Homo sapiens: one gene and its partners. The protein of the gene in region 3 interacts with the protein of the main gene of each other region in a pairwise test. Each region holds a gene or a part of one and is shown on either strand. Other genes may lie near its edges. The genes, in order: LRRC45, TSFM and CCDC89.

Region 1 (5,461 bases), on a different chromosome or scaffold from region 3:
TCAGCATTGTGCAGTGCCCCTTGACCTTTGGGATGGTGGCCAGATGCCCCAGGATGGCCCTTGCCTTTTGCGGTGGAGCAGCTCCCACCACCTCTGCCCCACATGTGCACGCGCTCCCCAACACCAGGCGGCTCTTGCTCACAGCCCGAACCCCACAAAGCACTTCCACCCCCATGCACTGAGGGGGCACCCCTGACTTGCCGGGTGAGACGCTGCCCCACACGGCATAGATTCCCAAGCAGCCAGCCGCTGGGTGCAGGGCTGGTGGCCACCAGCTACTCCTGAGGCTAAGCAGCCCCGGGGTGACACAGCTCCTTTGTGTGTGTGTGTGTGTGTGTGTGTGTGTGTGTGTGACTGAGTTTCACTCAGTCACCCAGGCTGGAGTGCAGTGGCGCAATCTCGGCTCACTGCAACCTCCACCTCCCGGTTCAAGCGATTTTCCTGCCTCAGCCTCCCGAGTACCTGGGATTACAGGTGTGCGCTACCATGCCCAGCTACTTTTTTGTATTTTTAGTACAGATGGGGTTTCACCATGTTGGCCAGGCTGGTCTCGAACCCCTGACCTCAGGTGATCCACCCACCTCGACCTCCCAAAGTGCTGGGATTCCAGGCATGAGCCCCTGTGCCCAGCTGACACAGCTCCTTCTGCAGAGCAAGCCATGGGCCACAGCCAGGACCGGCTCACCACCTTCCAGGAGAACCAAGCCCGCACTCACGTCCTCAGCAAGGAGGTCCAGCACCTCCGGGAGGAGAAGTCCAAGCAGGTGAGGATGGCGCCTTCACTGACCTTGGAGCTGCTTATGGCTGGAGGGCCTGGCCACGTCCTTCCTCCCTCAGCCCCGTGGTCTGCCCATCTTCCCTTCCTCGGGGCCCTGGAGCCTCTCTGAGTGGCTGGTACCAGGAAGGAGGGGCGGCCTCCTGGTCTGATCTGCAGGTGGACTTCCTTGGGGAGCTGGCGTCTGAGCCCTGAGGCCTCGCTCTGCAGGGGCCACCCTTCCTGTGAAGGAGACAGGGCACCGTGGGTGGAACCCTCCGCTGCCTTGCCACATTGGTGGGCGCTGGCTCTCCTTCCCCCTGAGAAGGTCAGGTGGACAGGCTGCAGGTGCCCTGACAGGGCTGCGGCTGTCTCTGTCCCCAGTTCCTCGACTTGATGGAGACTATTGATAAGCAGCGAGAAGAGATGGCCAAGAGCAGCAGGTGAGCGGGCCCAGGGCAGGGGCAGGGTGAGGCTTCAGGGATCAGGTCCTGGCTCAGACTCAGATGGGACCAACCTGAGCCCACGAGTGAGGCCACGAGGAGGTCGCTGGAGGCTCAGTGCCCAGGCGACCATAGATGCTTAAGGAACAGCAGCAGCTACCGAGGCCAGAGGGGTATGGGAGCGCTCTGGGGTTTGGGTTACTCTCTGCACCCTCCTCTCTGCCCACAGGGCGTCGGCAGCCCGTGTAGGGCAGCTTCAGGAAGCCCTGAATGAGAGGCACTCCATCATCAACGCTCTCAAGGCCAAGTAAGTGGGGGGTGGCCTCAGGATACTTCAGAGACGTGCCCACAGGGCAGAGAAAGGTGGTGTGAACCTGTGTGCAAGTCCTGTTTGCAAAGCAGAGGTGGGAAATGGTGAGGCTGGGGCAGTAACCCAGAAGCCTTCCTGGAGGAGGCGGGTGCTGGCTGGGGTTGACTAGGTGCCCAGCAACAGTGAAAGCAGCGAGGCCTTTATAAGGCAAGTGAAACTCCAACCGGGGCGGGGGTGCTGCCCCTCCTTTCTGCAGGCTGCAGATGACAGAGGCCGCCCTGGCTCTGTCGGAGCAGAAGGCCCAGGACCTGGGGGAGCTCCTGGCCACAGCGGAGCAGGAGCAGCTGAGCCTGTCACAGAGGCAGGCCAAGGAGCTCAAGCTGGAGCAGCAGGTGGGTGGGCAGGGCTTGAGAGGGGTGGGCCAAGGGGTGCGTGGCGGCTTCGTGACCCTCACTACCCATACCCCGTTCCCCTCCCAGGAAGCTGCAGAGCGGGAGTCTAAACTCCTCAGAGACTTGTCTGCTGCCAATGAAAAGAACCTGCTTCTGCAAAACCAGGTAGCTGTGGTGGATGGAGCCAGGGAGCCCAGGGTGGGCGCGGCAGGGCTGGGCTGCAGCTTCCCTCCCTGGTGCCGGCTTTCAGGTAGACGAGTTGGAGCGGAAGTTCAGGTGTCAGCAGGAGCAGCTGTTCCAGACCAGGCAGGAGATGACCAGCATGTCAGCTGAGCTGAAGATGCGGGCCATCCAGGCCGAGGGTGGGCACGGGCAGGCCTGCTGTGGAGGGGCCTGGGGATGGGCACCGGGGGACGGGGGCCCCCAGGGGATGCTCACGCATACTCTGCCCACCCTGGGCTTCCAGAGCGCCTGGACATGGAGAAGAGAAGATGCAGACAGAGCCTGGAGGACTCCGAAAGCCTGCGCATCAAGGAGGTGCCCTCTTCGTTGGCCTCTAATGCGCCTCAGTCTCTGGTCTTGGTGTCACGCAGGTGTCCCCAAAGCACACACCTGGTGGGAGCTTCCCTTGCCAACCTTGGGTCACTGGGTGGCCGTATTTTGCCAGCCTGAGCGGATGTCAGACCCAGAACCTCCTATTGGGGGCGGCGGGGGGACCCCGGCAATGTCTGAGCCGTAGTACAGGCTGCCGTTGAAGAGACACCAAGGCCCACTCGTTCAGGGTGTGCATGCTGCGGTAGTTTCCTGCTAGGCCATCTGAGGCAGTGCTTTCTCAGAATGAACAAGGTTCTCAAGAGACACCTGCCTTTCAGGGTGGGGAGTCCGTGAGGAGAAGGTAGGGAGGCCCGCTCTCCACTCTGGCCCCACAATCCCTGCCCCTGAGCAGGTGGAGCATATGACCCGTCACCTGGAGGAGAGTGAGAAGGCCATGCAGGAGCGGGTGCAGAGGCTGGAGGCGGCGCGGCTGTCCCTGGAGGAGGTGAGTGCCCACCAGGCAGGGCCAAGCTCTGCCTTAGTCCTGGGCTGAACAAGGCAGGGGCCCCTGGTGTTCGCCGCCTCAGGACCAGAGACCTCTTCCTGTTCCCAGAGGCTCATAGGCCCCACCTTGGGGACCCACCCACCAGTGTGCCCAAGAAGCTAAAGGGACTTAGGTGGCATTCGGACTTCCTTGGCCTTAGGAACCTTGCCCAGCGAGCTAGGTGGCAGAGCAGCTGCGTGGCCCTCAGGAGGCTGGCAGAGAGGAGCCCCCCTGGCTGGGGTTGGCTGGATGGGCCAGAGAGAGAAGGGCCCTGGGCCAGGGACAGGAGAACGGGCTGGCAGGTGGCCATCTGTGCAGGAGCTGAGCCGAGTGAAAGCAGCGGCACTCAGCGAGCGTGGCCAGGCTGAGGAGGAGCTGATCAAGGCCAAGAGCCAGGCCCGCCTGGAGGAGGTGAGCCACACATGTCCGCCACCCTCCGGGGGAGCCAGGCTGCCCGGCATTGCGGCCCGCATGCAGACTCCAGAGCTTCGGTCTGAGTGGGGAGGCGGGAGTGTGGTGTTGAGGTCAGATGAGCACACCCTGGACACTGGTGGGTCCGCTTCAGCCTTGGATCAGGGCCTGAGACGGTGGAGAGGTTTGGCCCATCTCTGCAGCCTGTGACTACACGCATGGATGGATGGGAGGGGTGGTGTGACCGAAGAGGGAGGAGGAGAGCCCAGAGGGCATCTGGAGGAGGTGGCTGCCAGGGGAGCGGGTTCAGAGTCATAGTAACTAGAGCAGCCAGTCCTGCAGAGAGGTGGGGTCGTGCCCGTGCAGACATTCCCTCAGCTGAGCTCAGGCTGAGCCCCTCATGCTTCGTGGCGGCCCCTGTGCTCACAGCAACAGCGCCTGGCTCACCTGGAGGACAAGCTGAGACTGCTGGCGCAGGCACGGGACGAGGCGCAGGGCGCTTGCCTACAGCAGAAGCAGGTGGTGGCCGAGGCCCAGACCCGGGTCAGCCAGCTGGGCCTGCAAGTTGAGGGCCTGCGGCGGCGCCTGGAAGAGCTGCAGCAGGTAGGCGGGGCTCCGGTGGGGGGCCCCGGGCGTGCTAGCCCCCAACCCTCGCCTCACTCCCCAGCCTTCGTGCCTGGCAGGAGCTGAGCCTCAAGGACCAGGAAAGGGTGGCCGAGGTGAGCAGGGTGCGCGTGGAGCTGCAGGAGCAGAACGGCCGGCTGCAGGCGGAGCTGGCGGCTCAGGAGGCGCTGAGGGAGAAGGCGGCGGCCCTGGAGCGCCAGCTGAAAGGTGAGCCAGACCCTTGTCCTCCCGCCGCCCACTGGTGGGACGTGAGGCCAGCCAGAGAGCGGGGCTGGCCAGGTCTCCCGTGCTGAGGCCGTGCCACGGTGCGCTGGGGCTGCGTCCGCTCACTGCGCTCCTTGCCCTGCAGTGATGGCGAGCGACCACCGAGAGGCGCTGCTGGACAGGGAGAGCGAGAACGCGTCTCTCCGGGAGAAGCTGCGGCTCCGGGAGGCGGAGATCGCCCGCATCCGGGACGAGGAGGCCCAGAGGGCGAGCTTCCTGCAGAACGCCGTCCTGGCTTACGTGCAGGCGTCCCCCGTGAGGACCCTGAGCCCCCCAAAGTGAGACAGGCCGGGAGGACCCGGGCGCAGTAGGAGTGCATCAGGCGGCGCCCGAGATGGACCAGGGGCTGCGTCCCGCCCGCGCCGCCTCTTTGAGACCCGGGTCGTCTGTTCCACGCGGCGGTTGCGGCGACTGTTGGTGGTGTCGCGGCTGCGGGGGAACCCCGTGGGAGGCGCCTGGGAAGGGCTCCCTACCGGCCCCTTCTTCCCGGTCGACGCCACGTGGGAGCACACCGGGAAGGGGTCCCGCGGGCGCGTCTCCCCCTCGCCTTTTGCGATGTCACCGTGAACGCTGCGGCCGCCTGCGCGCGGCGGGGTTTGGAAATACAGCGCGTTTGCACTTTGTGATACATTCTGGCCCCGCCTCTCCCTCCAAACGCGCGACCGTCCGTGCCTCTCCAAACGCGCGGCCCTCTGCCCCCAGCCCTGCAGGGAGGGCCTGCCGGGGTGCGGCTGTTCGCCCCTCCTCGCCGCTGCCTTGAAGGGACGGGAGGGCCGCGGGGGCTGTCCGTCTGGGGGTTCGGGCGGCTGCAGACCCCGGAGTTCCCAGCTGGCTCCCGGCGGCAGGGGGCGGGTCCCCGAGAAAGCGCAGCGCGCGGAGCCCTCCCCGCCGGGTCCAGGTCGCTGGGCTCTCTCCGGCCTGCGCTGCGCCCCGAGGGACCCGTAGGAGACCCCCGGGCCGGGGTCGCGCTGGAGGCGGGGGCGCCGCAGCTCGCGCAGCTCTGCCCGGGTTCGGGCGGCCCCGCCCCGCCAGCCGCGCGGCCGGGCGCCCCCCGCCCGCCCCCGCCCCCGCCCCCCGCCCCCCGCCGGCCGCGCTCGGCTGTCTCCGCGCCCGGCGCTCGGCGGCGCTCGGCTGTCTCCGGCCGATCGCTCGGCGCTCGGGTCCGCGGCCGCTGCGGCGCCGGGC
Region 2 (7,114 bases), on a different chromosome or scaffold from region 3:
ATCCCAACACTTTGGGAAGCCAAGGTGGGTGGATCACCTGAGGTCAGGAGTTTGAGACCAGCCTGGCAAACATGGTGAAACCCCGTCTCCAACGAAATACAAAAATTAGTTGGGCATGGTGGCACACGCCTGTAATCCCAGCTACTGGGGAGCCTGAGACGTGAGAATCGCTTAAACCTGGGAGGCGGAGGTTGCACTGAGCTCAGATTATGCCAATGCACTCCAGCCGGGGAAACAGAATTGAGACTCCATCTCAAAAAAAAAAAAGAAAGAAAGAAAACATTCTTTAAGACAACTAAGTGTAGACAATATTTTCATAAAGGCAAGAATGTTAAAAATTGGTAACAGTTCCATCTTTATAAACATTTTATTCTATCACTGCACCACCCCCAATTACATTCCACTCTCATCCTCCAGCCTAACTTCCTAGAATGTAATTTCCTAGAAATCAAGAACAATTATTTTCTTTTTCTTTTAAATATAGAGATGGGGTTTCCCTATGTTGCTCAGGCTGGTCTTGAACTCTTAGCTTAAGAGATCCTCCTGCTTCAGTCTCCCAAAGTGTTGGGATTACAGGCGTAAGCCACTGCACCTGGCCAAGAACAGTTTTTTCTTTTTTTTGAGATGGAGTCTCGCTCTGCCGCCCAGGCTGGAGTGCGGTGGCATGATTTCAGCTTACTGCAACCTCCACCTCCCGGGTTCAAGCGATCCTCCTGCCTCAGCCTCCCGAGTAGATGGGACTACAGGCATGCGCCACCATGCCTGGCAAATTTTTATATCTTTTTTAGTGGAGACAGGGTTTCACCATGTTGGCCACGCTGGTCTTGAACTCCTGACCTCAAGTGATCCACCTGCTTCAGCCTCCCAAAGTGCTAGGTTTACAGGCGTGAGCCACTGCACCTGGCCAAGAACAATATTTTCATAAAATCATAAAATGTTAGAGCTAGATTTGCACATTTTTGATGGGAATGCAAAATGGTACAAATCCAATGGTGTGAAGTTGTAGTATCTAATAAAACTACATATGCATTTATCCTTTGACCCTGAAATCCTATTTCTATGAATTCACCTTGATGATATACTTCCAATAATACTGCACAAGATTATTCATTGAACAATTATTTCTAATCAGAAAATTTTAAAAACAGCCTAAATGCCCAAACATAGCAGGAGATTAAACTATAGCACATCCACACAACAGAATACTATGTAGTTGGAAAAAATAAAAAGGATGACCTTCATGAATTGCTATGGAGTATTTCCAGGACATATTATTAAGTGAAAAAAGCAGATTATAAGTGTATATGCATATTATACTACTATCTGTGCAACAAAGAACTATTTGTATAAATATGCTTATTTTTGCAAAAAGAAATACTGAAAGGATAACCACAATCCAATGACACTGGTTATCTAAATAAAGGGATGGATAGGAACGGGGTAGAAGGGAGAGAAGCAGTAAGACTCCTCTGAGCATACTTTTTTTTTGACAGTTTTAACTTTGAGGACTTTCTTAATGTATCTTATGTATTCAAAAATAAAATTGAACCTGGCCGGCCGGGCGCGGTGGCCCACGCCTGTAATCTCAGCACTTTGGGAGGCTGAGGCGGGTGGATCACCTAAGGTCAGGAGTTCGAGACCAGCCTGGCCAACATGGTGAAACCCCATTTCTACTAAAAATACAAAAATTAGCCAGGTGTGGTGGCGGGCACCTATAATCTCAGCTACTCAGGAGGCTGAGGCAGGAGAATCACTTGAACCCAGGAGGCGGTGGCTGTAGTGAGCTGAGATCATGCCATTGCACTCCAGCCTGGCTAATGAGAGTGAAACTCCATCTTAAAAAAAAAAAAAAAAAATCTGGCCCAGTGCCGTGGCTCATGCCCATAATCCAGCACTTTGAGGAGGCCAAGTCAGGCAGATCACTTGAAGCCAGGAGTTTGAGACCAGCCTGGCCAATATGGTGAAACCTCATCTCTATTAATATAAAAAAGATTTAAAAAACAAACAAAAAACCCCGAAGTGCTGGAATTACAGGCATGAGCCACTGTGCCCAGCCAAAAAAAAAAACACACATTTAAAAAATAAAATTAAAATAAAATTAAATCAACACATACTTGGGGTGAAAATAAATACTGACTACAAAGAAATATAAAACTATATTTCAAATGAGTAACATAAGCTCACAGAAGGAAAAAAAAAATCCAAATAACTAAACGGAGTCATTTGACCACCTAACTTCAATGTAAAGACAAAAAGAACTACAAATAAATCTTGAACTCCTTAGTAGTTTTGTTATTTGCAGTGGTCAGGGGTAGCAATTCTGAAACAATTTTGTATATATATTGTAACACTTAGTACATATGAGTACATAACTAAAAACAGTAAACATATTGAAGTTGCTATGAAAAAGGAAGGATTGAACCACACGCACACAGCACATACACCTGCACTGTCTGCTCGAAGAACAAATGACATCTCAGTAGAAATCAGCACACCTGGCCAGGCGCAGTGGTTCACGCCTGTAATCCCAGCACTTTGGGAGGCCAAGATGGGTGGATCACGAGGTCAGGAGTTCAAGACCAGCCTGCCCAACATGGTGAAACCCTGTCTCTACTGAAAATACAAAAATTAGCTGGGTATGGTGGCACGTGCCTGTAATCCCAGCTACTCGGGAGGCTGAGGCAGGAGAACTGCTTGAACCGGGACCCAGGAGGCAGAGGTAGCAGCGAGCCAAGATCGCGCCACTGCACTCCAGCCTGGGCTACACAGCAACACTCTGTCTCAAAAAAAAAAAAAAAAAAAAAGAAAGAAAGAAATCAGCACACCTAACATTCAAATCTTGATTTCTAAAAACCATTCCCCAACTAAAAAGGACCAGGACTCCTTGAAGAAGTGGCCCATTCCACAGTTGGGGAAAGGAAAGTATGACATAAACCCAAAAGATAAGAATAAACAAAAAAGCCAAAAAGTAAGAAAATACTCAGAAAATAATAAGGGCATATCAAAGGACATTACAGTCAGCTTGCATTGATCAAATCCGCAGATAATTTGAGCATCAAAACGAATAATGAGTTATAACTTATTGTATAAAATAAGAACCCACGAGTCAATGTTAGTGCTGAATAAATCACTAAATAAAAATGAGAAGGGAAATTTATTTCTAACAGTAGAATGACAACTACTAAAACTAACACATTTTGGCTGGGTGCGGTGGCTCACGCCTGTAATCCCAGCACTCTGGGAGGCCAAGGCGGGCAGATCACCTGAGGTCAGGAGTGCGAGACCAGCCTGACCAACATGGCAAAACCCCATTTCTACTAAAAACACAAAAAAATTAGCTGGAAGTAGTAATGCATGCCTATAATCCTAGCTACTCAGGAGGCTGAAGCATAAGAATTGCTCGAACCCAGGAGGTGAAGGTTGCAGTGAGCTGAGATCACAACACTGCACTCCGTCTCAAAGAAAAAAAAATCCTAAATGTGATCACTGTCCTGTGGTTATATAACAATGTCCTTGTTTTTACGAGATACATGCTGAAGGAATAAAGGATCCTGATGTCTGCAACATACTTACAAAAAGATTTTTTTTAAACAGTGATGATGACCGGGTGCAGTGGCTCACGCCTGTAATCCCAGCACTTTGGGAGGCCCAGGTGGGCAGATCACCTGAGGTCAGGAGTCAAGACCAGCCTGGCCAACATGGTGAAACTCCCGTCTCTACAAAAATACAAAAAAAATTAGCCGGGCATGATGGCAGGTGCCTGTAATCCCAGCTACTTGGGAGGCTGAGGTGGAAGAATCGCTTGAACTGGGAGGGAGAGGTTGCAGTGAGCGAGATGGCACCATTGCACTCCAGCCTGGGTGACAGAGAGACTCCATCTCAAAAAAAAAAAAAAAAAAGGGCGATGATAACATGTATATAAAAAGTGATAGGGCCAGCTGTAGTGACCCAAGCCTATAATCCCAACACTTTGGGAGGCCAAAGCAGGTGGATTTCTTGAGCCCAGAGGTTTGAGACCAGCCTGGGCAAGATGGCAAGACTGTCTCTACAAAAAACTTAAAAATGAGCCTAGCATAGTGGTGTGCACATGTAGTCCCAGCTACTCAGGAGTCTGAGGTGGGAAGATCACTTGAGCCCAGGAATTTGAGGCAGCAGTGAACAATGATTGTGCCACTGCACTCCAGGCTGGGCAAGAAAGCCAGATCTGTCTCTTAAAGAAAAAAAGAAGTGATAAAGCAAATACAGCAAAATGTTAATAAATGGCAAATCTGGAAAAAGAGTACACTGGGGCCAGGCATGGTGGCTCACGCCTGTAATCCCAGCACTTTGGGAGGCGGAGGCGGGCGAATCACTTGAGGTCAGGAGTTCAAGACCAGCCTGGCCAACATGGTGAAACTCTGTCTTTACAAAAAATACAAATACTAGGCGTGTGTGGTGGCGGGCGCCTGTAGTCCCAGCTACTCGGGAGTCTGATGCAGAATTGCTTGAACCCAGGAGGTGGAGGTTGCAGTGAGCCAAGATTGCACCACTGCACTCCAGCCTGAGTGACAGAGCAAGACTTCATCTCAAAAAACAAAAACAAAAATAAAAAAAAAAAGGGTACACTGGTGTTTACTGGCAAAATCAAAGCTAAAATTTCTAGTTCAAGTGACTTACCTACTCAATACAATTAAAAAAAATAATCTCAACATTGTTTTCCATATGACTATGTAATGCCAATAATAATTAACATTTACCAAGACATCTCAAGAGAAGGATAAAGAAGATAAAAAAAGTTGGTAATAAACTCAAAAAAATTACTGTGAGTGGTTGGTTCATCTTTGCCTTGGCAATAAGGCTGAGTCAAAGGCAGAATGACATAATTCCTTTCCTTGATCCCTCTATGGATAAGAATATGCTTATTTTCCTAAACCATGTCTTTTCCAATCTCTCTCTCTTTTTTTTTTTCTGAGACGGAGTTTTGCTCTTATTGCCCGGGGGGAGTACAACGGCTCACTGCAGCCTCTACCTCCCGGGTTCAAGCGATTCTCCTGCTTCAACTTCCCAAGTAGCTGGGATTACAGGCAAGCGCCACCACGCCCAGCTAATTTTGTATTTTTAGTAGAGACGGGTTTCTCCATGTTGGTCAGGCTGGTCTTGAACTCTCGACTTCAGGTGATCTGCCTGCCTCGGCCTCCCAAAGTGCTGGGATTACAGGGGTGAGCCACCACACCTGGCTCCAATCTCTTTATTTAGAAATTCTTTCCTAAGACCATTCCAAATTTCTGAACACAAAGCCTCAAATGGCTTCACTTGATCTGGCTAACTCCATTTCACTGGCATGCATGCATTCAATCATTCATTCATTCATCTGACAAAGATTTACTGAGCTCCAACTAAGTAGTGGGCCCAATTCTCTTTCACCAGAGATACAACAGTGAAAAGACAAATTCCCTGCCTCATAAAGCTTACATTCTGCTGGGGAAGATAGACAACACACAGATAAATTAAAATGTAATATATAAGCACCATAATAAAAAATTTTAAATGCAGCATGACACGGGGATATAGCAACGGGGGAAGGGTAATTCTATGCAAAGAGATAGCATTTAAGCAGAGATGTGAAGTAACAGAATGAGACATGAGAATGTCTACAATAGGAACAGCAAAAGACCCAATGAGGACAGCAAATTCAGCACACTGGAGACAAATCCCAAACTTACTTTACTGTATGCAGAGGGTTGATCCTTTAGGGTCTGACAATGCATCATGGTTCCAAGGGCTACTTGCTGGACCAACAGTTGAAATTTTAAATTTCTAGAAACAAAATCTGTCTCACAGTTTACCTGTGGGAACAAATTGATATAGCTGTATAAGCTGTTTAATGATAATTTCCAAAAGTGCCTTAAGGCTGGAGAATAAATCAAGATACTGATAGAACAAGCTACAGACTCAACGGAAAAAAAATGACTCCAAAATTTTAAAGCTACGCTTCCTCTCCTAGCCTGGAACAGAATGAAGTGATTTATGTTGGGCCAGTGAGTTAGCAATAGCCTGTATATTCAGAAGATGGTTCAATAATGTCCTGAAGGACTCACCACAAGTTCACCACTTACCTATGTCTGCACACCATCATCACCTCATTCTCCAGCCATCCCAACTCCAAACCACTTATGCTATTATCTTGTTTATCCCCATCTCTCACTCTAAACTAATCCACATCTGACTCTTCACCAATTATGGCCCCCAAACCTCCTCTAAAATACCTACTCTCTATTCAGCAACAATTAATATAATTAACTTGTAATCTAACTGTTCCAGGAAACAATCAGTGACAAGGTGTAAGCCTGTGCCAGACTCACATTCAGGAGTAATATTCTAGACTGTCAGGCCATTTCTCATCAACACACCAGTACATTTCTATACTTAAACGAATTCGTAACTAATACCCAGGGTTTCATGAGTTTAACTTCAACTACGCTTTATGGTTCTTAAACAGATCTCTTCTTCAAGAACAGGCCCCTTTAGGGCCTACTACAAGCTTTACACCCAAGGGACAGCTGTTCTTGGTATCTGGAATTTCCAACAACTCACCTCTACTAATACAGTTGTGTTTCCTTCCTGCAACAGCCCAATCAGGCCTTCTTTGGTCTTCCTCCCTTGGAGCTTGGCAGCTTTGCTCCAGCCCTCCTTCTGGGCCTCCTTGTGGAGCCAGATCTCTGCCTGTAAATTGAGAGGAAAAAGAGCAGACAACAAAGTCACAGAATTTAGCACTAAATGTAGTTCTAAGATATACTCAGGTTTCCTGATTCTCTAAATTCTCTAACAGAAACTAAAGTAATCTATCATTTACTGGCAGTCTACCACTAAATGCCAAATACCAGGTATTATTATAACTGGTGCCTTGGATGAATCTAATCTTCACAACAACCCTATGGGGCACACAGTTGTATTTTCTTTATACAGTTACGCACCACATAACGATATTTTGGACAATGACGGACTGCATATATGATGACGGTCCCTAAGATTATAATGGAGCTGAAAAATTCCTATTGTCTAGTGACACGGTAGTCCTCCTAACATTGTAGGGCAACATATTACCTACATGTTTGTGGCAATGCTAGTGTAAAGA
Region 3 (6,822 bases):
GGCTAGATGCTGCCTATGTTTTCCCTCTGTGATCACAGTATATAATAACAATAATAATAATAATAATAATTATTATTATTATTTTTGCCCTTAGACTGTATGGGGGCTCTTCCAGGGCAGTAAAAATGCTTCTTTATGCTTCTTCTTAGTGCCTACCCCAGCACCTGGCACTTGGTCGCCAAAAATTATCTTTCAGTGTGCTGTAGTCATCAAAATCCAGCTCCCCCAGTGACCAACTGGCCTTAAGCAAAATTACCAAAACCAGTCTCCTCTTCCTTAAAATAGAAATGAACACGCTTTCCTTCTTGAATAGTCCTAAGAATTAAATAAAGTAATTCATCCAAATTGCTTCAGCGCAATGATAAATAGTATGGGCTCAATAAAGGATATCCATGATTAACTTAGCTCCTATATTCTGATTCTTGGTAACCTGTAGAAGGAAGTAAATAGTCCTTTGAAGCTAGCAGTGTGGTTTCTATTTTGATGAGAAAAGTTTGTATTTAATAGCATAATCTTAATAGAAGTGTGAAAAAATGGGTGTAAAAAATTACCTGAGGCAAGGTAACACTTGCTTGGAAATGGTTTTACTAAAAAGGCACCAAGTCATATTTTTTAAGTAAATTCATTATGTAACTTGGTAGCCTTCAGCAAAATGGGTGAGAAAAATATTACATTACAATCTATTTTGAGAGGTATTCATAATAATGTTTATATATCAATACCTAATTACAGGAAGATAAGAAAATATAACTACCTTTGAGAACTTTTTTAAGAACTTTACATATATATATATCATGTTTTTATAACTATTCTTACAAAATGTAGGTATTACTACAAAAATGCTGCAAGCATACATACACACGTTCAGCTTAGATTTTTTTAAAAAAGGAAAATCTTAATTACAAAAAATATGCTAATAGAAACAAAACAATTTCTGAGTTACTCTATAGATCACGTCTGCTATGATTTGTTACCCCAAATTGTCTAATTGTCTATTAGCATATCGTGCAATATTAAATTAAGCTACTGATATTTGCATTATTGCACATCTAAATCCTCTTTTTAAAGAGAAAACCAAAAAATGGAATATTATCTAAGCTTGCAGAAAAAATAAAAGTTGTTTTGTATAACTTATTTGAATCATATTGCTCATACAGAATAAAATTGACCTTCTTTGTTAAAGAACTTGATCTCAATCATTTTCCAAGCTAGCGCAAAATAAAATAAAGTCAGACACTTTTTTTTTTCTGCAAAGCATTCATGCTATTATGCTGATACATGTTTGCTTACAATCTCAACTATGGGAGACTATAAGCCTAACTATCTACAGTGGGTAATTGTGCTAATTATTTTTCACAATGGCACATCTCACTGCACTTAGATTGACTTAAATCATAGAAGCTGCTAATTTAAAATCCTAACATAAATGAAGATATCTGAGGTTGAGAATTAATAACTTATGGGTAGGAGAAGATACTACTAGTAAATTTAAGATTTCTAAGGCACAGAAGGAAATCTGGCAAATCTTGTGTATTCTAGGTGTAGAAATGAAAATTAATAATGGCTTTACAATAATAACAACAATATCATAGTAAAGTAGCTTTTCTTTGAGTTGCCTTTTGTGCTTGAAAGTATAATAAATGGGATATCATCTTTACTCTTGCCATAATGCTAAGACGCAAATATTTGAATTCTGAATTGCAGGCCAGAGGAAGCAGAAACTTCCCTATGGAGAGAGATGGCGGAGTTTGCCATTGAGTTCTCTCTCCTTGCTTAAAAGATCCAAGCTGTGCTTTTTGAAGGCTTCAGACTGCAGCCTGAGTTCATCGTAGGCCTTCTGGATCCCATCTACTTTGCGCTGAAGCTCCCTGACTCTCAAGTTGCTGTCCACAGCCACTGCCTCTTGCTCAAACCGCTCCAGCGCATGCTTCCTGTCTTCATTTGCTATCTCCAACTTTTCCTCAAGCTGGCAGATCTCTGCCTGTTTGTTCTGAAGCACTTTGCCCCTTTCAATGGACAGCTGCAGCAACTCCTCTTTCTCTCTAGTGACGGTCTGCAGCCTGGCCTGCAGCTCCTGGCTCAGGCTGCTGTGTGTCTCCTCTGCCTTAGCTATCTGCTCCACAGCCTGCTGGTGCTGCTGCTTGAGGGTCTGCAGCTGGCTGCGCAGCTGTTCTGTCTCCTTGGTGTGGGTGCAGGCCTGCTGGCTCTGTAGCTCCAGCAGCTCCTTCTCGCGCGCCTGTGCCTGGCAGGCATCCTGAGCACACCTCTCCTTCAGCGTTTCTAGCTCCCCAGTGAGGGCCTCACACCGGACTGTGAGCTGTAATACTTTCGCCTCCTCATCCTTCAGAGCCTGGCTGAAGAGGCTGCTATTCTCCAGCCTCAGCTTCTCATTCTCCTCCCTCAGCTTGATGTTCTCACTCTTGTATTCATCCTTGAAGCGGAGCATCAACTCGTGGTTGGCTGCTAGGGTCATAAAGCGTTCCTCTAGTTTCCGACTGTACTCACCCTGGGCCTTGAGCTTCTCAGCCTCCTGCATCATCTTCTCCTCCAGCTCTGCATTGAGCAGCTCTAGGATCTGGCAGCGCTCCAGGGCCTCATCTGACCTCCGCTTCAGGATGCAGATGAGCTGGGACTGCTCTTCAATGCGGGAGCGAAGCATAGCCTTCTCGCTCCTCTCCTCCTCTGACAGTCCCCGGAGGTTTGCCAAGGCTTCCCTCAGACCGTCCAGTTCCTTAAACTCCGTCTCCTCTTCCTGGTTGTTCAGTTTTTCATTTTGCTTCTCTAAGCGTTCTTCAGGGGGCGGGGTGTCCATCCTGGGAGCCTGCTGTTTCTGGAGCATAGGCGCTCTCATCCACTAAGGGCTGACTACAGTCTTTTCCCCTCAGATTTCAAACGCTGCAGGGTGTTGCTAGGGACTCTTGGCACTCCCCAGCAGTTGGTTTTTCCAGTAAGGAGCCCTGTAATTGGTGGACAGGTCTTCAGAATGCTATGAAGTAACAACAGGGGAATCTGGGGGAGTCCAGAGCCAATCTGGTCGGGTTACTTTTGCCTTTCTAACCAATCACAGCTCTCAGTTGTCAACTGTCTCAGTGTCTGGCCTGTACAGCACAGAGATGCCAACCCCACTCAATCTCCAGCCAGCATCAGGGGAGGAAGCCTGACTCCACCTAATTTCTGGTAGTAGTAAACAAATGAAGCAGGCAATGATATATTTATCCTCCCTCTCCCCTCTTCAGTTATCGTTTGAATAAATTACTGTTTGTGGAAACATGGTTGGCTCCTCAAAAAATTTCAGTCTATGAATACAAAGTAGTAGTGGTATTCTGAGAGCCAGGACCCTAAAAGCCTGCATATCTGCACCCGTGATGTTTGGCACAGCTCCCTTTTGGTATTTAAGTATTAAAATAGAAAACACCAGTGAAATTTCTTTTGTTGTTCTTAGCATTGTCCCCACCTGGGCATAAATACTCTTTATTAGATATTTAACACCCCCTGTTTTTACCCATTAGCAAAATAAGGTTACAGAAAGAAGCTTAGTGAACCACACAGATAAACATTAAAACAGAAAAAATAAGATTCAAATGAAGCTTGCCATTATATGCCAAAGTCAACTCCTGATAGATTAGTTAAATGTAAACAGAAACTAGAAGAAAATGAAGGTAAACATCAAATCTCTGGGGCTAGGAAGGATTTTTTTTTTATCTTAAACATTATGTAAGATCAGAAAGGGAAAGCTTACTCAAAAAGTTATGTATAATTTTTTAAATTATGTGACTTCTGAGGTCTCTCCAGCCCCTTCTTCCACTGGATTTTCTTGACATTTTACTCCTCAAACCCAAATATTGAAGCCAAACCCAAATCCACTAACCAGCTCTCTCGCCCTATCTTTAGGTGTTCCTCTACTTGGAATGCCTTTCCTACTTTGTCCCTTGTCACTCTAGTAAAGCTTTTTATTCTTAGTTAAGAATCGTCTCTGAAGCCTATTCCTGGCCCCTACATGTCCAATTGGTCACTCACATCTTTTAGTGCATCCGCTATAGCTATTTGTACTTCTGGTGGAGGATGTGAAAATTTTATTGCAGTCACTGTTTATCTGCCAGCTTCCCTCTGTTAGACTGTAAGATCCTTAAGGGCAGGGACTGTGTCTATTTCATCCTTGATGATTAGACTAGTGCCTGGCACATGGGGGAGATTCAGATAAATGTGTATTAAGTGGATGTTGAAGGTAAAAATCAAATTGAGAAAAATATCCCTAATATGACAGACACTACTTTTTTTTTTTTTTTTTTTTTTTTTTTGAGACAGAGTCTCCCTCCATCGCCCAGGCTGGAGTGCAGTGGTACGATCTCGATTCACTGCAACCTCCGCCTCCCGGGCTCAAGCAATTCTCCTGCCTCAGTCTCCTGAGTAGCTGGGATTACAATTACATACAACCACACCTGGCTAATTTTTGTATTTTTAGTAGAGACGGAGTTTAACCATGTTGGTCAAGCTGGTCTTGAACTCCTGACCTTAAATGATCCACCCGCCTCAGCCTCCCAAAGTGCTGAGATTACAGGCATGAGCCATCGCACCCAGCCCAGACACTACCTTTTTTAAATAAATATTTTATACATATCAACGAAACATTAACATCTAAAAAATAAACAATTAAATTCACAAAAATGGCCAAGAACTGAACGTCTACAGTGATCCAATAAATACAAGTTAAAATTAGACATAATTTCGGCCGGGTGTGGTGGCTCACGCCTGTAATCCCAGCACTTTGGGAGGCCGAGGCAGGCGGATCACGAGGTCAGGACATTGAGACCATCCTGGCTAACACGGTGAAACTCCGTCTCTACCAAAAAAATACAAAAAATTAGCCAGGCGTGGTGGCAGGCGCCTGTAGTCCCAGCTACTCAGGAGGCTGAGGCAGGACAATGGCGTGAACCCGGGAGGCGGAGCTTGCAGTGAGCCGAGATCGCGCCACTGCACTCCAGCCTGGGCAACAAAGCGAGACTCCGTCTCAAAAAAAAAAAAAAAAAAAAAAAGATATAATTTCACGTATCAAATTAGTCAAAAAATTTTCTCTTAAGACAAGCCAGGACTAGAAAGGAGTATTGAAATAGGCACTCTCTTAAACTGTTGGTGAAAGTCAGTTGACAGTAGGTACTGAGAAATTAAGATATTTTTATGGCTTCCGAACTAGTAATTCTTCTGCGGAGATCTTTGCTTAGGAAATAATCTGAAAGAAAACATTTTGCTCAAAACTTTTCATTGTAGTGTGGTTTGTAACAACTAAAAGTTGGAAACCCAAGTTTTCAAAAAAAAAAGGGAATGGTTACAAAAATTATGATATATTCATACAAAAAATATTGTACAGCCACTAGAACTTATTACATTTATAGGTAATTTTTAATAGCATGGAAAAGTCTTATGTTAGAAATACAACTGAAAAAGGCAAAATACAAAACTTAAAATTCAGATGATTTCAATCCTGTGAAAATTAAGGGTAGGGAAAAGAGTTGACTATTCTTGTGGTCACAGTTTCTGGTGATCAGATTTACTATCTCCCAAGTCATGATGATAAGGAAAAACCCTGGGTGTCATTATAGATATGAGATGAATTTTTAAATGCTTCAGATTTCACTGGGAGCGAAACAAATCTGAAAGAAGAGTTTCAGGTTCTTCCCTCACTGTCAAAGATCAAGGTCTCATGTTTCAAATCCTGAATTTCTTGTCTATATATGGAAACCAAGATTGAAGACTGGGGAAATTTCCTAAGCTGAAATTTTAACAACTACATAAACAGTAGGATATTGAAGTTTTGTGAAAGTGAATTCCAAAGACTTTAAAAATGTGAATTAAACTTATTTGTAATTTTCCCACATTTCTCTTGTCCTTTTCCTTAAATTTCAAGCTTCATATGCGTAAATGGAGTTCGTCTAGTTATTTTCAAGGCAAATGACTAGAAAATTAGAATGGTCCTCTTAAATAAAAGGGTCTTACAAACATTGAAAATTTTATTTGTTGATTATATGGTTGTCTGATATCATAAAGTGAATTCACAAAATATATTTCCTGAAAGGAGGAAAAGAATTCAGAAAAATACGGAAAAAAGATACATACACATTTGTTTTTTTACCAGTCAGGGTCTCTGTTGCCCAAGCTGGAGTGCAGTAGTGTCATCATAGCTCACTGCAGTCTTGAATTCCTGGGCTCAAGCAATCTTCCTGCCTCAGCCTCCCAAGCAGCTAGGACTACAGGCATGTACCACCATGTTCAGCTAAATTTTCCACATTTGAAAAAGCTTATATTTCTTTTTTGCAAATATATTTTAATACACATTTCTATTAAATTTATATTTACATTATTTAAAATAACACACATCTATAGATTACTTATCAAGACCAAGAATCTGATAAGATCCTAATCAATATTCATTCATTTATTCAGTAAACATTTGCAAGGTTATTTGCAATGCTAGGTGCTAAGAATATATTAATAAAATAAATACGATCACTGTCCTCAAATAACTTAGTTTAGTAATCACTTTGGTTCCTTTCTGCCGTGGTTGTCTTCTTTGCTCAATCATTTTTTTTCTAGCTCCCCTCCTAAAAGTATCCCATATATTCCCTTCCCAGAGATCCAAGGTGACCAATTCTCTCCCTTGTGGTGATCAATGAGTCGTCTCCACTTATCTTTAAGTCTTTCCATGCCTCCCTCCCTTTTAAAGCTACCATTTACAGAGCTCTTCTAGGTAGTGGGCATTTATTTGTACATCTCTCACTTAATTCTAATGATATTCTTGAAGGGTAGGCATTATTATCCACATTTTAT

Evidence for each region.
Region 1: the proteins of CCDC89 (region 3) and LRRC45 interact in binary tests that used the Homo sapiens proteins (3 or more experiments, as listed by UniProt).
Region 2: the proteins of CCDC89 (region 3) and TSFM interact in binary tests that used the Homo sapiens proteins (3 or more experiments, as listed by UniProt).

Annotation. Positions count from the first base shown.
Region 1 is NC_000017.11:82,026,248-82,031,708, forward strand, and holds the end of LRRC45 (leucine-rich repeat-containing protein 45), read left to right. Parts: intron 1-651; coding exon 652-764; intron 765-1,138; coding exon 1,139-1,197; intron 1,198-1,426; coding exon 1,427-1,504; intron 1,505-1,763; coding exon 1,764-1,899; intron 1,900-1,986; coding exon 1,987-2,064; intron 2,065-2,149; coding exon 2,150-2,261; intron 2,262-2,365; coding exon 2,366-2,436; intron 2,437-2,771; coding exon of another isoform or gene 2,772-2,798; exon of another isoform or gene 2,799-2,845; coding exon 2,846-2,938; intron 2,939-3,295; coding exon 3,296-3,388; intron 3,389-3,817; coding exon 3,818-3,991; intron 3,992-4,071; coding exon 4,072-4,219; intron 4,220-4,361; coding exon 4,362-4,558; 3' UTR 4,559-4,904; downstream 4,905-5,461. UniProt on the Homo sapiens protein: Component of the proteinaceous fiber-like linker between two centrioles, required for centrosome cohesion.
Region 2 is NC_000012.12:57,785,751-57,792,864, reverse strand, and holds part of TSFM (elongation factor Ts, mitochondrial isoform 2 precursor), read right to left. Parts: intron 6,703-7,114; coding exon 6,574-6,702; intron 5,826-6,573; coding exon 5,703-5,825; intron 901-5,702; coding exon of another isoform or gene 838-900; intron 1-837. UniProt on the Homo sapiens protein: Associates with the EF-Tu.GDP complex and induces the exchange of GDP to GTP. It remains bound to the aminoacyl-tRNA.EF-Tu.GTP complex up to the GTP hydrolysis stage on the ribosome.
Region 3 is NC_000011.10:85,683,280-85,690,101, forward strand, and holds CCDC89 (coiled-coil domain-containing protein 89), read right to left. Parts: upstream 2,917-6,822; 5' UTR 2,852-2,916; coding exon 1,727-2,851; 3' UTR 569-1,726; downstream 1-568.